Linked DNA regions of Homo sapiens: region 1 is linked to region 2. The links come from fine-mapping of genetic effects on gene expression. A gene starts in region 2. The other region holds a variant in brackets. All regions are shown on one strand. Distances are from middle to middle.

The links.
Region 1: its variant is fine-mapped to the expression of GLYATL1-AS1 in whole blood (INTERVAL, PIP above 0.99).

The regions. Positions count from the first base shown.
Region 1 is chr11:59,008,089-59,016,430 of GRCh38, forward strand. All of the region lies in intron 3 of GLYATL1-AS1 (GLYATL1 antisense RNA 1), which reads right to left. Among named protein-coding and RNA genes, the nearest start is that of GLYATL1-AS1, 46 kb to the right of the region's middle. The variant A/T (reference allele first, on the strand shown) is at 3,768.
Region 2 is chr11:59,054,403-59,062,744 of GRCh38, forward strand. GLYATL1-AS1 (GLYATL1 antisense RNA 1) reads right to left here and starts at 4,050. Exons shown (of 6, transcript NR_033853.2): 1 at 3,970-4,050. RefSeq lists enhancers at 3,885-3,954, 4,125-4,384.

The DNA of each region.
Region 1 (8,342 bases), 46 kb before region 2:
TTGCAAACATTTATTTCTCAATTTAACTCACCACCACTGTGATCACCATCACACATCAACGCAACAAAAATCAGGTAAATAATTATCTTACTTGTTTGTATCAATATTTCTTAAATGTATATACAGCTTACATTTATTGCATTGTTTTATATTAGAAGTGCTTCAGTTCTTTATAAGTTTGGTGATGTTTTTGTCACCAGAAATATGCTGTAGGAACTTAACTCTTCTTTATATTAATTAGCTTATGGTAAAAATAATTTTGATATGTGTTGTTTCATTTGATGTTGCAGTTTCCAAGAACCTATTGACAATGTTAAGTAAGGACTAATTGTATACAGGAGTACACAGGGTTAGAAAAAAGGAGCATAGAGTTGGCAAGTTATTTTTGAATGTCTATTTCCTGGAAGAGGTAAAATTTCTTCCTATTCCCAAAATCACTTTTTAGAAGTGAGTGGGTGAGGGAGTATGCCAAGAAAGTGTTCAGAAAAAGAAGTAGGATGTTAGGGGAAATGGTTAGGGTATAAATGGCTTTTGATGTTAATGGGAGAAACAGTGGACTAGAATTAGCAAGGACTGGCAAGCATGCTTAGGATCATGTAAAGAGGGACACCATCACTGGAAGTGTTACTCAACAGTATATTAAGCTCAGCACCCTAAAAGTAGAAGCACAGAAGACAAATTAAAACAAACCAAGATTGGCTTTTTCAGGGCTGGATAACAAAAAAGATAAGGGACAAAGCATTTGAGAACATAGTAATGAGGGATTGAAACTCACATCTAAGATAGAGAAGAAAAAAGTAAAGTAGGTTGGAGACCAATAAAGTGAGAAAATATAGAAAAAGCAAGGGACGAAAGTACTTGATGAAGTCAAAGAATAGCAATGTTAATAGACAGGGGAAAATGTACTTACAAATAGGAGACTGGAGTCAGATATTAGGCTATTAGAGGTTGAGATTTCAGAGGTATTCAGAAGTAGATCAGTTTGGCATGTATGACTGTTGGCATCAACTCCAAGTCAATAGAGTAGGAGCCAAGAAGGGAATGGGAGCTTCAGGTATCACAGACATGAACAGGATGTAGCAGAAGTTGGCTGAAGAGAAAAATTAGGATGTCAGGTGCCAAATATTTCAACGAATGCAGAGAAATTTGGCAGAGGGCAACAGAAAAGCATTGTTTTATTCCAGCCACATGACACAGAAGGAAGAAGGAAGATTTTTCTATGCAAATAAGTAATACTCTAGAAGCAGGATTGGAGGCAAGGAGAATACTGATTTTTTTTCTTTTTGGTAACTATATTACCCTGGAGATCTAGAGGTTGTTAGAGAAATGTTTAAGCATATTGATAATTTATAATTCAAGGAAAGCATTTGGACATTTTACAAATTCAAAAGGCTACACACTGGCTTTTTCTAAAGTATTTTCCAGCTTCAGGTACCTAAAAGGTTTTGAAGAATTTGTTCTCAACATTGAGACCCTGGTGAGTGCTCATTCCAAGGGTTTTCAGGGGAAAAGAAATAAATTAACAAATACAAATGATTGAGAACAAGAATCCTAATTAATTGAAATGCCAAGAAAAAAAGGCTGTTCTAAACAATTCTGCTTACCTGAAGTTTCTTTGCAGAGCTGTAGGCACACTGCCTGCTGCACTTGCTCAGAATGGCAATGGAAAGGTTTCTGTAGCTAACACTCTATGGACTCAGACACACTAAAATTCAATTGACTCACGCTGTCACTGTTTAGCATAAAGCTTCAGGAAGTTATGGGTTCCTGTAGATTAAACCAGATGTTCTGTCCGTAGACAGGAAGTCAGAGGCTTTGTGGACCAGAGGAGGACTGAGACCATGTTCTGTATTGAGCAGCCTCTACAATTATAAGAAGTTTTACACAAGAAGCTTTTGATTTATACATAACTTGTTATAGCTGAAAGAGTATTCTAGAACAATATTAAGTCAATTTTCTAGAGTTGGCAAAAATAGCACAGCTGCAGCCTTATTTAAAACAAGTTAGCAGAGCAAACAAAGAGTTGGAAAGTTTGGTTTCAAGGCAAAATACCTGGCCTAATACTTTCAACCATTTGTGGGTTGGAAAAAGACAAGAATGCCTCAAGAAAGTTACTGTAATAATGAGAACTGGGTTTCATATACCTTGTCCTCTGGTTGTCTAAAGTGGAGCAAGAGGGAAGGGTATTGTAAGTATAAGAAGAAAAAGCAATTAGTGGAGAAAAGTTTCAGGGGGACTGGAATTAGCTTTGTAGAGGAATAGAGACAAACATTGTTTTCAATGTGTGTTCCTCACACCATCTACTTCAAGATCAATTGGGCTTGCTTGTTAACAATACAAGAACTTTTCCAGATCAGGTAAATCAGAGGCTCCCAAAGTGCCTGGCAATCTGTATCTTATAAAAAGCTATCTAAAAGAGTCTGATCTATATTATATTTTGAAAACATTGAGATTAAAAAATGGGAAAATATGTTATAAAATTTTTATCCTGGGTGCAGTGGCTTACACCGGTAATACCAGCTACTTGGGAGTCTGAGGCAGAAGGATTGCTTGAGGGCAGAAATTTGATATGAGCCTGGGCAACCTAATAAAACTCATCTTTAAATTTTTGGTTTTTAATTAGCCACATATAGGGGCATGTGTCTATAGTACCAACTACTCAGGAGACTGAGATGAAAAGATTGCTTGAGCCCAGAAATTTGAGATCGCAGTGAGGTATTTCACCACTGCACTTCAGCCTGGGCAACAGGGTGAGATACTCTCTCTAATTAAAAAGAAAAAAAAGTCTTTACCCACTTTCTGGAAGTGAAAGCAACTTCAAATTGTAATCATTTATGACATGAGAAAAACAAGAGTTATTTTTACACAAATAAGGAAGCTGTTGCTGACAAAAAAGTAAATGTCTTCCCTCAAGTCACAAAACTAACCATTGGCAATGTCTGGAATATGAGGCCGAATATCGAATTCTTTTAATGACACCATGATTCCATAGACAGTGATTCCCTACCCTTAGGCAGTTTATAACTTCTTACAAACCTAAATCATCTACTCCAGACGACATATTAAAAATTATCAATTAGGATTTTCTACTATCTGCACATGCTTGCTGTGTAAGGCATTGAATTTTATACTTTTAGTTACTCTACTTTTTGAACCAAAAGTTGTTCACATAATCAAAGAATTTTTACATATTTATAATTGTAAATGATTAATTTGTTAAATCTATATGAAAGTTTATAGAGTTTACAGTAAACTAATCATCCTTTTAAAAAAATGGTCCATTTAAACTACTCAATACGTATTTTTTATTCCATAATTGACAGCACACTGTGGATAGCTGAGAGACCACATATTTTATTTCTATACTGAGTATTACTTAAGTAATTTCTTAAGCTATTAAATATTTTTTAAATAGTTTATAATGGGGAGGAGAAGCAAAGCAAATGGCAGAATAGAAGGCTCCACTAATCATTTCCCCATACCCCACAAGGCCCCAAGTTAACAACTACACAGAAAAAATACCTTCATGAGAACCAAAAATCAAGTGAGCACTCATAGTACCCGGTTTGGACTTCATATCCCTAAAAGAGGCACTGAAGAGATGGAAAAAAACAGTCCTGAATCACCAACCCCCCTCCCTCCCAACCTCAGTAGCAGTCATGTGGTGCACAGTCTATCTCTGGGCACGGGGGGGAAGGAAGAACACAGCAATTATGAGGCACTGAACTCATTGTTGTTATGTTAGACACAAAGGAAAACTAGATCAA[A/T]CTCAGCTGACACCTGCCCCTGGAGGCAGAGGGAGCATTTAAGCCAGTCCTAACCTGAGAGGAATCAGCAATCCCAGCAGTAAGAACTTCAGTGCCTGAAAACCTCACCACAGGGGGCCTACAGTTCTCTGTGTTTCCAAGTAAACTTGAAAGGCAGTCTAAGCCATAAGGACTGCAACTCTTAGGTGAGTCCAGTGCTGAATAAGTCCCAGAAATTGTGGACTAGGGGGATATTTGACATACTGAGACACCAGCTGGGTCAGCCAAAGGAGTGCTGTTATCACCCCTCCCCCAACTCCAGGTTGCATATCTCGCAGCTCCCAAAGAGACTCCTTCCTTCTGCTGGAGGAATGGAAAGAAACAGTAAGGAAGACTTTGTCTTTGCATATCAGCTGAGCCACAAGAGGATAAGGCACCAAACAGAGTTGTGAGGCCCCCGTTCCAGGCCACTGCTCCTAGACAACATTTCTAGACATAGGCTGGGCCAGAAGGGAAACCTCTGCATTGAAGGAAAGAATTCATTCCTCAGAGCATTCACCACCTGTTAATTGAAGATACCTTGAGCCCTGAATAACCTAAGCAATACCCAGGTACTATTAATACACTGAGGGCTTTGGATGAGCATCTGAGACTAGCAGGTTTCAGGTGAGACTCAGCACATTTCAGCTGAGGCAGCTATGAGGCAAGATTCTTTCTTCTTCAGAAAAATGGAAGGAGAGTAAAGAGACTTTGTTTTGCACCTTAGGTGCCAGCACAGCCACAGCATGGTAGAGCAGCAAGTGGGCTCTTGGCATACCCAATTGCAGGACTTAGCTCTTGAACAGCATTTCTGGACCTACCATGGGCCACAAGGGAGCCCACTGCCCTGAAGGGTGAGTCCCAGGCAAGGCAGCCTTTACTACAAGCTGATTTAAGAGCCCTTTGGCTTTAAGAGAACACTGGTTGGTAGTCTAGCAACCAGTGGGTAGGGGTCACTATGGGGTGTGGCTCCTCTGCCTTTGGAAAGAGAAGAGAAAAGTGGGAAGGACTTCATCTTGTGGTTTGAACGTCAGCTCGACTGCAATATAATAGAACACCAGGTACTCGTCTAATGTTTTTGACTCTAGTCCCTGACTTCTGGACAGCACCTCTGTATCCACCCAGGGCCTGGGGGATCTCACTGCCCTGATGGGAAGGACACAGGCCTGGCCGGCTTTGCTGCCTGCTGATTGCAGATCTCCAGGGCCTTGAGCAAACATAGGCAGTAGCCAAGAAGTGATTACAGCAGGCATTGGGCAAGATGCAGTGCTCTGTGGGCCTCAGGCCTGATGTAGTGCAGTCATAATGGTGGTGGCCACAGAAGTGCTTATGTCACTCCACCCCCAGTTTTAGGTGGCACAGACAAGAGAGAGAAATTTTTTTTTTTTTTTCAAGAAATTAAGGGAAGAAAACAGAGCAGTCTCTGCCTGGCAATCCAGAGAATTCTCCTGAATCATGTCCAAGGCCATTGAGGCAGTACTTTTATGAGTCTTCAAAAACCACAGTATTACTGGGCTTGGGATGCTCCCTAAAGTAGAGAGTTTAAATCACGATACCTATGTCCTTTCAAATATCTGCAGAGCGTTCCCAAAAAGGATGGCTACAAATAAGCCCAGACAGTGAAGACTACAACAAACACCTAACTCTTCAGTGCTCAGACACCGAAGAACATCTACTAGCATCAACACCATTGAGAAAAACATGACCTCAGCGAATGAACTAAATAAGTCACCAGGGACCAATCCTGAAGAAATGGGGATATGTGACCTTTCAGAAAGAGAGTTCAAAATAGCTGCAATGAGGAAACTTAAAGAAACTTTGATAACACAGAGATAACACAGAGAAGGAATTCAGAATTATATCAGATAAATTTAACAAAGAGATTGAAATAGTTAAAAAGAATCAGAAATTCTGCAGCTGAAAAATGCAATTGTCATAATGAAGAATGCATCAGAGTCCTTTAATAGCAGAATTGACCAAGCAGAAAAAAGAATTAGTCAGCCTGAAGACAGGCTATTTAAAAAGACACTGTCAAAAGATACAAAAGAAAAATAATAAAAACAACAAAGCGCATCTACCGAATATAGAAAATAGCCTTGAAAGGGCAAATCTAAGAATTGTTGGCCTTAAAGAGAAGGTAGGGAAAGAGACAGGGGTAGAAAATTTATTTAAAGGAATAGTAAGAGAGAACTTCCCCATACCAGAGAATGATGTCAGTATCTGAGTACAGGAAAGTTGTAGAACACCAAGCAGATTTAACCCAAAGAGTATCTCAAGGCATTTAAAATCAAACTACCAAAGGTCAAGGAGAAAGAAATGTAAAAGCAGCAAGAGAAAAGAAATAAATAACATACAATGAAGATCCAATACATCTGACAGCAGATTCTTTCAGTGAAAACCTCGCAGACAGTGGCATGACATATTTAAAGTACTGAAGGAGAAAAACCTTTTACAGTAGAATATTATATCTGGCAAAAATATTCTTCAAACATGAAGGAAGAATACTTTCCCTGACAAGAGCTGAGGGATTTCATTAATATTAGACCTGTCTCACAAGAAATTGTATATAAAGAGAAGAACATTAGAAAGAACAGAACATTCAGTAAGAAAAGAACATTAGTGAGCAATAAATAATCATCAGATGTTTAAAAACACACTGATAATAATCAGTACGCAGAAAAAGACAGAATATTATAACACTGTAGCTCTGGTGTATAAACTACTTTTACCCTAAGTAGTAACACCAAATGATGAACCAATCAAAAATAATAACTACAACAACTTTTCAAGAAACAGTACAGTAAGATATAAATAGAAATAACAAAAAGTTAAAAAGTGGGAAGACAAAATTAAAGCATTGGGTTTTTATCAGTATACTTTGTGCTTGTTTGTTTATGCAAATAGTTTTGTTATCAGATTTAAATAATGGGTTATAAGATGGTATTTGCAAACGTCATGGTAACCTCAAACCCAAAAACATACAATGGACACACAAAAAATTAAAAGAAAGAAACAAAATTTTATCACCAGAGAAAATCACTTTCGCTAAAGGAAGGCCGGAAGGAGAAAAACAAGGTAGAGGAGTTCACAACCAGCAAACAAATACCAAAATGGCAGGACTAAGTCCTTACTTATTAATAATAACATTGAAGGTAAATGGACTAAACTCTCCAATCAAAAGACATAGAGTGGCTGAATGGATTTAAAAACAAGACCCATTGCTCTATTGCCTATAAGAAACACACTTCACCTATACAGATCCACATAGACTGAAAATAAAGGGAAGGAGAAAGTTATTTTGTGACAATAGAAACTAAGAAGAGTAGGAGTCACTATACTTTTGTAAGAAAAATTGATTTCACAGGTCTGGCAGCCAAGATGGCCAAATAGGAACAGCTCTGGTCTACAGCTTCCAGTGTGAGCGATGCAGAAGACAGGTGATTTCTGCATTTCCATCTGAGGTACAGTGTTCATCTCACTGGGGAGTGCCAGACAGTGGGTGCAGGACAGTGGATGCAGCGCACCATGCACGAGCCGAAGCAGGGCGAGGCATTGCCTCACTCAGGAAGAGCAAGGGGTCAGGGAGTTCCCTTTCCCAGTCAAAGAAAGGGGTGACAGATGGCACCTGGAAAATTGGGTGACTCCCACCCTAATACGGCACTTTTCCAACAGGCTTAAAAAACGGTGCACCAGGAGATTATATCCCGCACGTGGCTCAGAGGGTCCTACACCCATGGAGACTCACTGATTGCTAGCACAGCAGTCTGAGATCAAACTGCAAGGCGGCAGCAAGGCTGGGGGAGGGGCACCCACCATTGCCCAGGCTCGCTTAGGTAAACAAAGCAGCTGTGAATCTCGAACTGGGTGGAGCCCACCACAGCTCAAGGAGGCTTGCCTGCCTCTGTAGGCTCCACCTCTGGGGGCAGGGCACAGACAAACAAAAAGACAGCAGTAACCTCTGCAGACTTAAATGTCCCTGTCTGACAGATTTGAAGAGAGCAGTGGTTCTCCCAGCATGCAGCTGGAGATCTGAGAATAGGCAGACTGCCTCCTCAAGTGGGTCCCTGACCCCTGACCCCCGAGCAGCCTAACTGGAAGGCACCCCCCAGTAGGGGCAGACTGACATCTCACACGGCTGGGTACTCCTCTGAGACAAAACTTCCAGAGGAACGATCAGACAGCAGCATTCACGGTTCACGAAAATCCACTGTTCTGCAGCCACCGCTGCTGATACCCAGGCAAACAGGGTCTGGAGTGGACCTCTAGCAAACTCCAACAGACCTGCAGCTGAGGGTCCTGTCTGTTAGAAGGAAAACTAACAAACAGAAAGGACATCCACACCAAAAACCCATCTGTACATCACCATCATCAAAGACCAAAAGTAGATAAAACCACAAAGATGAGGAAAAAAGAGCAGAAAAACTGGAAACTCGAAAAAGCGGAGCACCTCTCCTCCTCCAAAGGAACACAGTTCCTCACAGCAACAGAACAAAGCTGGATGGAGAATGACTTTGACAAGTTGAGAGAAGAAGGCTTCAGATGATCAAACTACTCCGA
Region 2 (8,342 bases):
GGAAACCTGCTCAGGCACCTTTCCAATGCATGAGGAAACTCTCTCTTCATTCTTTTGCCTATTAAACTTTTGCTCTTGAACCCACTCCTTTGGTGTCCACATCTCAATTTCCATACTGTGAGACAGCAAACCTCTGGCATTTCCCCAGACAAACGATGCCGCTTCACTGCCATCTCAAGCCCAAGTGCCAAAAATGACCACTTTAGTCTGAAGAATGCCACAGCTGCCACCATGCTGCTTAGGATAAGCAAGGACATGAAGATGGAGTGGGGACGGGTTTATTAGAGAGGCCGCAATAAAAGCATATCCCAGGCAACTTTCCACTTCTTAACTTCTGTCATTTTCAAACTTAAAGGTGTTTTTTATTGTTGTTGGTTTGCTTTTCTTTTTAACAGTTTCTATTTCTGGCCAAAAGACTGCTTTTTGTTTTCCTGCTATGACATATTTATTCTTTGTTCAAAAGTCTTTTCCATGATTTCATATAGGAACTAAGAAGACAGCCATGTGTTTGCTCAACACATTGATCCCCTCTCCACCTAGAACTCTCTTTACTGTTTCTCCCAGGAAGATTCCACCCCTCCTGTTCTGCCAGTTTCCTCATATTTGCCTCATACAATTGCCCTTGTAGGCAGATGAACCCGGGCTAGTTCTACTTTACTATGGACACCAAAGCTTCTGAAATAACATCTGAGTCTTGGGATTTGCATATGAATCTTCCCTTGACACAGCAAACAGTCTTTCCTTTTACCTTCACTAAAGTCATCTACTTGGGAGAATGGAGAGCACTAAAATTCTACAGATTTCAAAAACAAACCTGCTGTGCCTTTCCAGAGTCCTTGGAATGCAAAAGAGAAAATAGGTTAGAAGGGATATTTTCTCCTTCCTTTCTTACCTTGAAGGAGCTCCTATTTTTAAAGGGAATCATTGGGGACAATCCAAAAGAAACTCTTGCAAATCAAGCTTTGCCATGCCATCACGAGAAGGGTAACATGTGTGCCCAGTGGTGAAATTTTTAAATTTTGGTAATGATCTCCAGGGTCACCCCTATGGATAACAAAAATATTTTAAAAACCTATAATGGTGCCAGCCTTTCAGAACCCTGTCTCTTTGCAAGGACCTACCAAGGTCTAGAGATCATAGCACCTCACTAGCAGCCTACAGGCATTCTCCAAAGGTTCCCACCTGCCCCACCCAACATACACACACACATACACACACACACACCCTCCTGCTATCCTTTGGCCCTAGATTTCACCTAACTTTATTCTAAATCTTAATCACCCTGTGCCCCCAAACTCATGTGTTATAGGGCCTTGGTAATCCCTTTCTAAGCATATTCCCTGACTTCTTAAATTCTATTTATGAGACATATATCTAAAGTAAAACTATATTTCAGGCCAGATCAGCACGCTTCTTATTACAATTATAAACACTGAACTTCTTAGTTGCTGGGAAAATATATTGAAAAGGCATTATTATGCTTGTATAGCCATAGATTATCTAGGGAAAAGTATTGAGTGTCTCGAGAATGAGTGAAAATTGTTTCCCCAATATACACCTTTTTTTCTTTTGAAAAGTATATCCTGCGTATATTCAAAAGATAATGTTTTTCAAAAGGGGAAATTGCCTCCACTGTGGACTCTTATTAATTCACTTATCCATCAAGTTCTCTTATTAACTCACTTATACATCATATTCCCTTATTAACTTTTTATTCAATCACTGGTATTTGTTTCTAGTGCTCATAATTGAACACAAATTTGTTTACTATTATATAAAATAAAGTAACAGCTATTCACCGTTTCCTCCTTTACCTCAATAAGTTGACATCTTCCAATAGATTTATTTCCCTGTTTTGCTCCCTCCTCAGATCCAGATGAGTGTGCTAAGTGATACAAAATGCTTTTATTCCTCTACCGTTCAACCCCCTGAGCCCGATGTTTTAGTTCCACGTGTTTTAGTTCCAGGTGTCACAGAATTTCCCTTGCAGTGTGTCTCATCAATTTAAAGAATCCTTCTTTAAAACTTTTCTTACACATTCCCAGAGAGCCTATCATTGTCCATTTAGAGTTAACTCTCTACATAAAATTTGTCAATTTTTTTTTACTCACCACTGTTTCCTCTCCTTATTTTCTGCTCCTATCTGAAATCTCTTTTCCTATTTGATTAAATTGCTTCTTCAGTATTTCCTGCATGTACATATGCTACCGATATAATATCTGAAGACTCTCAAATCCACAAATATCTTTCTTTGACCCTCACAAGAATATAATTTCTGCAGCCTTATACATTGACAAATGTTTGTCTTTTACCCTCAAGTGACTGATTCCCTATGACATCACATTTTAGGATGACCAAATATAATTTTCCACTTTATACATAAGGAAACTGAGGTACAAAGAAACAAGGTAGCCTTGAACTTTCATTCAAGGTCACAAAGCTAGCAAAAAGTGGATGACTAGCGATGAGGTCTTCAGGTTGAGATTAACAAACAACATCACAGGATATAATAGGATTTAACCCAACTTCAACTTCATAAAATGAATGGACATTCCCTGATCTTCCCTCCACTCCCACCCCCACCTCAGGGGATTTCAGGATGCACTGGGCAAAACTGTCTCCCTCCATCCCCAACCGTTTCTCAGGCAGTGACAGGTGTCAAGAACTCCTCGCCGCCCTTCTTGAAGCTTACATTCTGGAGCAGGGAGGCAGAAGCTAAACCAAAAATTAAAACAACTGTGAACATATTCCCTATAAACTCAGATGTAGTATATGAAAACAACACATGATTTGACGACAGAAGATGATGGAGGGAGAAAGAACAACAAATAAATAGGAAAAGAGGCCTCAGATAGGAGCAGGTAAAAAGGAGAGAAAACAGGAAGGGGTCAGGACTGGTTTCCCTCAAAGCCTGTCATTTGACAGAGAGCTGCAGAAAGAAGGAATAGAGCCAAGCACATAACAGGAGGGTAGAGTTGCAGTCTGAAGCACCCAAAATGGTCCACTAGGATGGACAAAGGACATACTTGAACCACCACTTAGATTCATCTTCATCTAAAAAATAAGAAATTAAGTGTGTGTAATATTTAATTATTTAGTACATTAATTACAGTAGAATATATAGAGTTGATGCTCAATTTGTTAAAAAATAGATATCTAAAATTAAACCTCAGAGATTACTCTTGCCTATGACAACGAGCTTCTGAAAGGCAAGGATAGGTCTCACCCATCTCTGTATCTTCAGAATCCATCATATTATGTGGAACATAATAGGTATCAATAGTATGTTGGGGAAAAAAATCGAAACCATGCTGAGCACCGGAATTCTGTGTAAATCTTTTTAAAAAGTCTCTTCTACTTTACATCAGAGTCCCTTTTGTATTTTTAGTATCATCCAGCCCCACGCCTTGCAGATAAGCCCCTAAGAAATGAATGGGTGAATGAATGTGTGGACAGCGGGATGGATCATTGAGTGAGGAGCAGTGATTCGCAGGACCTGCATGCATTGAAATCCTGCCAAAGCAGCCTCTGCAAAATAAAAGACCTTGGGCTTTGGTTTCTGACACAAGTTAAAATTATCCAAGGACTCTCCTTGGGCCACTTAGTTGAGGTTTCCTAATCTGTGAAACAGAAAATGAATTCAATAGAAAGATGATTGAGACAAATTTCTGGAAGGTGCCAAAGCAGGATGCCTGGCATTGAGGGACGCTTCACACCTGTTATCTCTCTCCCTATTCTCTCTTCACCCCTACTCCCGCCCGGCAACTCCCCGCTGTCAGCTCCAGGAATACTTACCTGCTGAGAAAAGGAAAAGCACAACACTGACTTTACCCCGCGACGCTTTTAAAAACTCCAAAACACCCAGCGCGATGGGGAGTAGGTTTCCCTAAAGACAGGTGGAGCAGCCATAGTTAACTTAGAGGAAGGTGAATTGACAAAGAGGGTTGAGCCACTACGAGCGGGAGTTACCTTGGACTAACAGTTGTATCTTCAGCGAGCACAAGTCCTGGAATCTCCCACGCCCATCCCTTTTTTTAGCGCCACAAATGCAGCCTCCTAAGAGAATGGGAAGCTTGGGAGTCAGAGAACAGAAGATTGAGCTACCATTGGCCTTAATGGATGTCAATCTTCACTTGTCTCTTTTTTTTCCTTCCTCGCCTCCTTGCCCCTCCCTATCCCGGTAGGCGCGTTCTCTGGCGCCATCATATGGCAGAATGCGGGACTACACCAAATGCGGAAAGGCACCTTCCCCTTCCCTGAGTATCTGCAAACTCAGGGCTGGGCTTGGTTTTTAAGAGCTCAGCTCCTGTGCCAGGGGCGGTGCTAAAAGGGGCTGCCTGCGCAGATGTCATTCCCACAAGATGCAAGTAAAGAAGCACCGCGGACACCGGGGGAGGGTCACAGAGTGACAGGAGGACTGGTTGACCAGCTGACTGGCCTCACTTCTGACAAATGCAAATTACCCAGCCACAGTCCAACCAAGGGTATCAAAACAGGATCTCTGCAGATGGAGCTCAGTGTTATGTGTTTTGGATGCTCGCAATAAGATTTTCATGCACCATAAACTTTCCTGAGTATCTCAACCAGTTTTGTTGATGCCGGGGTTTGTTCAAAGCTGCAGATTACTGGGCCTCACCCCAGACCTACTCTACTTAAATATAGTGGGGTTCCCATAATCCCCATTTTAAAAAACCTATCCAAGTTAAAGTACAGAGAATCACAAACTGGAAGAACTCCTTAATTTACAAATAAGAAATGGAGACCCCCCCACCAAGAGAGAAAGGAATTTGCCCAAGGTCTCCCTGAAAGAGCCTAAGAAAGCGTGAGGCTCTAAGGTTAAAATCCTACCTGACACCCTTTCCTTTCCCCAACTAGTCCTGTGACCTCTAGCAAACTATCCTGTCCTAATCTGTGAAATGGGAGCAACAGTCACACCTACCCCAACTGGTGACTGCAAATATTAAATGGGGCCACAATGAGTCAACTACCAAGCACCACCCCATTGTAAGTTGAGGTTGAAATGATTCTAGATCGCCCTACCCCCATTCATCTCCCAGTACCATTGTATGACCGTGGAGGTGAAACCATCCAGCCGCCTGTTGGTCCCAAACCATGTTCACCTCCACCCGTGGCTCAGTGACTATTTCTTTTCTTGAAGAGAGAGAGAGGCTCCTTGGAGCCTCTGGAATCTGGAGGGGGATGTTACCTTCCCCCTGTGTGCATTGTCTTCCCAAGATAGGATGGACTACGGGGTCTCCATGTGAAGAGTTAGCTGCCAGGGCATCAAGGATGGCTCCTAAGTGGTTGCTGGAGGCTTAGAGACCCCACTCCAGCTCTCTCTCAAATGGGGGCAGCTTGTTTGCAGCAGTGAGTGAGGTGGGCCCACTACGAACCCACAGGAGGAGAGGAAAAGACCGTCCCATCTAAGCTTTTACATAACCCATTGCAAGCTCCAGAATGTGGTGCCCAGGCCCATATCTATAACCCACCCCCAGAGGCCAGTTCTCCTCAGCCTTTCCTGCCACTTCTGCCATTGTACATCCAGACACTTCCCCTGTTCTCTTCTATCAAACTCCTACTCATCTCTCAGCCATCTAGTCCAAATATTAATCTTTCTCTGTGATATACTCTCAGGGTAGAGGCAGTGGTGCCTTCCTCTGTATTCCCAGAACATGTTGTCTGCAACTCTAAATACAGACATCATCCTACTATTAGGGTTCAAGAGCATCTTTTATGGGTTCATGAAGGAATCACTCTTCGTAAACACTGGCCTTATTCCCTAACTTCACCAGACCTGACCTTAGTGCATGATCCATTCCCACCTCTCCCAACCACATGAGAGGCCTTTTCCTCTTTATGGGTTTGCAAACCACAATATGACCTAACCACCAGTTACTGGCCAAAAGCATTCTTGTCACGTTTATTATAAAATCCAGCCAACAAGATGCTTTGTGCCAAGGGAATGTTCCTTTTCAGGGCAAACACTCTGTCCCCAGGGATGTTAGACAACTTCCATAGCCCCGTATAAGCATTAGCTAGAAATGAGTTTTTCCTAGTGGCCCAACAGATTCCCTGAGCATCCCTACTCTTTCACGGATTCCCATTGCAGTGGGATTGCATCAAACCTCTCAGGGCAAAGCTGCAAAGGGAAAAGCAAAGCTAGAGCTCTACTCTGGACCTATCGCTCTAGACAGTTAGTTTCTCTGTGAGGGTCAGTTTTATACGTAAGGAAGAAATGGAAGATTGCTCCCCAAAACGGCATCAGGTTACTTATCCCAATTGTGTGGTTCAGTTGCTACGCCAGTGATGAGCAAATAAACAGGAAGTAGAAGCACAACTATTCCTAAGCTCAAGAAGCAGGGAAGCTCAGGAATTGGTGTGCAGCAGTGCTGCTTGGAGCGCCATTACGAAGGAACAAGCACGGTCCACTGGGAGGTAAAATTCAGGGAATCGAAGACACAGGGGGTATGGGAAACAAGGCAGGCTTTTTTATTTATCATTTGCCATGATATCTCTCTGTGAACTTTCTTCTCCCTTTTAATTTTCCCTGTACTTTAATTATAATTCTTAGGCCTGACGTGGTGGCTTACATCTCTAATCGCAGTACTTTGAGACGCTGAGGCAGGCAAAGCAACTGAGGCCAGGAGTTCGACCCAGCTTGGCCAACATGGTGAAACCCCATCTCTATTAGAAAAACAAAACTCAGTTGGGCATGGTGGCAAGCACCTGTCATCCCAGCTGCTCAGGAGGCTGAGGTATGAGAATGGTTTGAACACAGGAGGTGGAGGTTGCAGTGAATCGACATCATGCCACTGCACTAAAGCCTGAGCAATAGAGCAAGACTCTGTGTCCAAAAAAAAAAAAAAAAATACAAAACTTCTCAGCTAATGGCCAACATTGAAATACAAAACTTCTCAGCTAATGGCCAACATTGTTACCATCATAAGTCCCAGCTTCCCTGTCTTCCTGTCATCATGTGTTGAATGTCCACTTCCCTCCTTATTTTTCAGTTGGAGTGGATTAGCATCACCAATTCAACATGTCACAAGTAGAATTACACAAACACACATAAGCACCGCAATCCTGGCACACACAGCATCTCTGTCCTCAGACTTCCCCATCCTTCTAGTTGCTCAAGTCAAAAGCCCAGGAATCATCATTGAGCCCTCTGTTTCTCTTATTTATGGACCATCCATAAGCAAATTCCATGGGCTGGCCCTTCAAAATAAATGTGGAATCCAGCCATTTCTAACACTTCCACCATTACCATCTGAGGTCGGGCTCCAACATCTTTGCAATCCTGGGATAGACTCTTAGCTGCCTTCTCCCTTCCACATCTCTTCTTGTCCTCCCAGAGTTTGTACCGCGCACAAACGCTGCTAGGGTGGTTTTAAAAAATATGTCAGGGTATATTTCTCCCTTACTTCAAATCCTCCATTTAAAATAAATTTCACATTTATAGCCAAATCCAGACTTCTTCATATGGCCCACCAGGGGCTTTATGCTAATGGAATGTGCAGATGCTCCTCCCTGAGGAGCACCTTTTACCAGGGCAAATTTTCTATCTCCAATGATGTCAGGCAATTCCGACAACACCATTCTCTACTACCTCTTGGTTTTCATAGATATTTTTCCTCCAGATTCTACAAAAAAAGAAGATCAAGTCTCCTTGTGCAATGATTTACTCTCTGATGTATATTGGTGCCAGGCACGTGTACTGCTTTCAGATGATTCAAGAATAACAGCGATTTGAGAAAGCTGTCCTTAAGTTTTCTCTTCTCCTTGACTGTATGACATTATTTTTACAATTATACTTCCAAAGTTTGCTCTTTCCAAACACCACAAGACCTATGTAATTTAAGCAGTGATTTTAGGGGTCTCTGTATATTTTATATTAATTTCAGAAACATGCTCATGATTATTCCACCAAAACTATCAACTGTTACATAAACATCTGTCCTTCTATGAGTTGCAAAATAATTGTCACCATCCCCACTTAATCAACCATCTTGTATCCTTCTTTGACCAACTTCTGAAAAATAACACCCAATACTAAAGGCATCTCCTTCTATTCAGGGTCTCAGACAGTAAGACGTTCTTTCCTTAAACAGTAAGACGTTTTCTCAAGTCCCATGGAAAGCACTTCTTTGATATCAGTTTGGGGAGGCCGAACTCTGGAGTCTTCATCCGAAGAGTAAAGTACCGCACTCAGTAATGCGCGTCCTGGGAACCAAGCCTAAGCAGTTTTGGCCGCTTCCTCGTCCAGGCTGGCATTGTCTGTGTTCGCCAGCCCCTCCGCGAAGTTAGCTCATTTGCGGATCAGGCCAAATCCCTGGAGACTT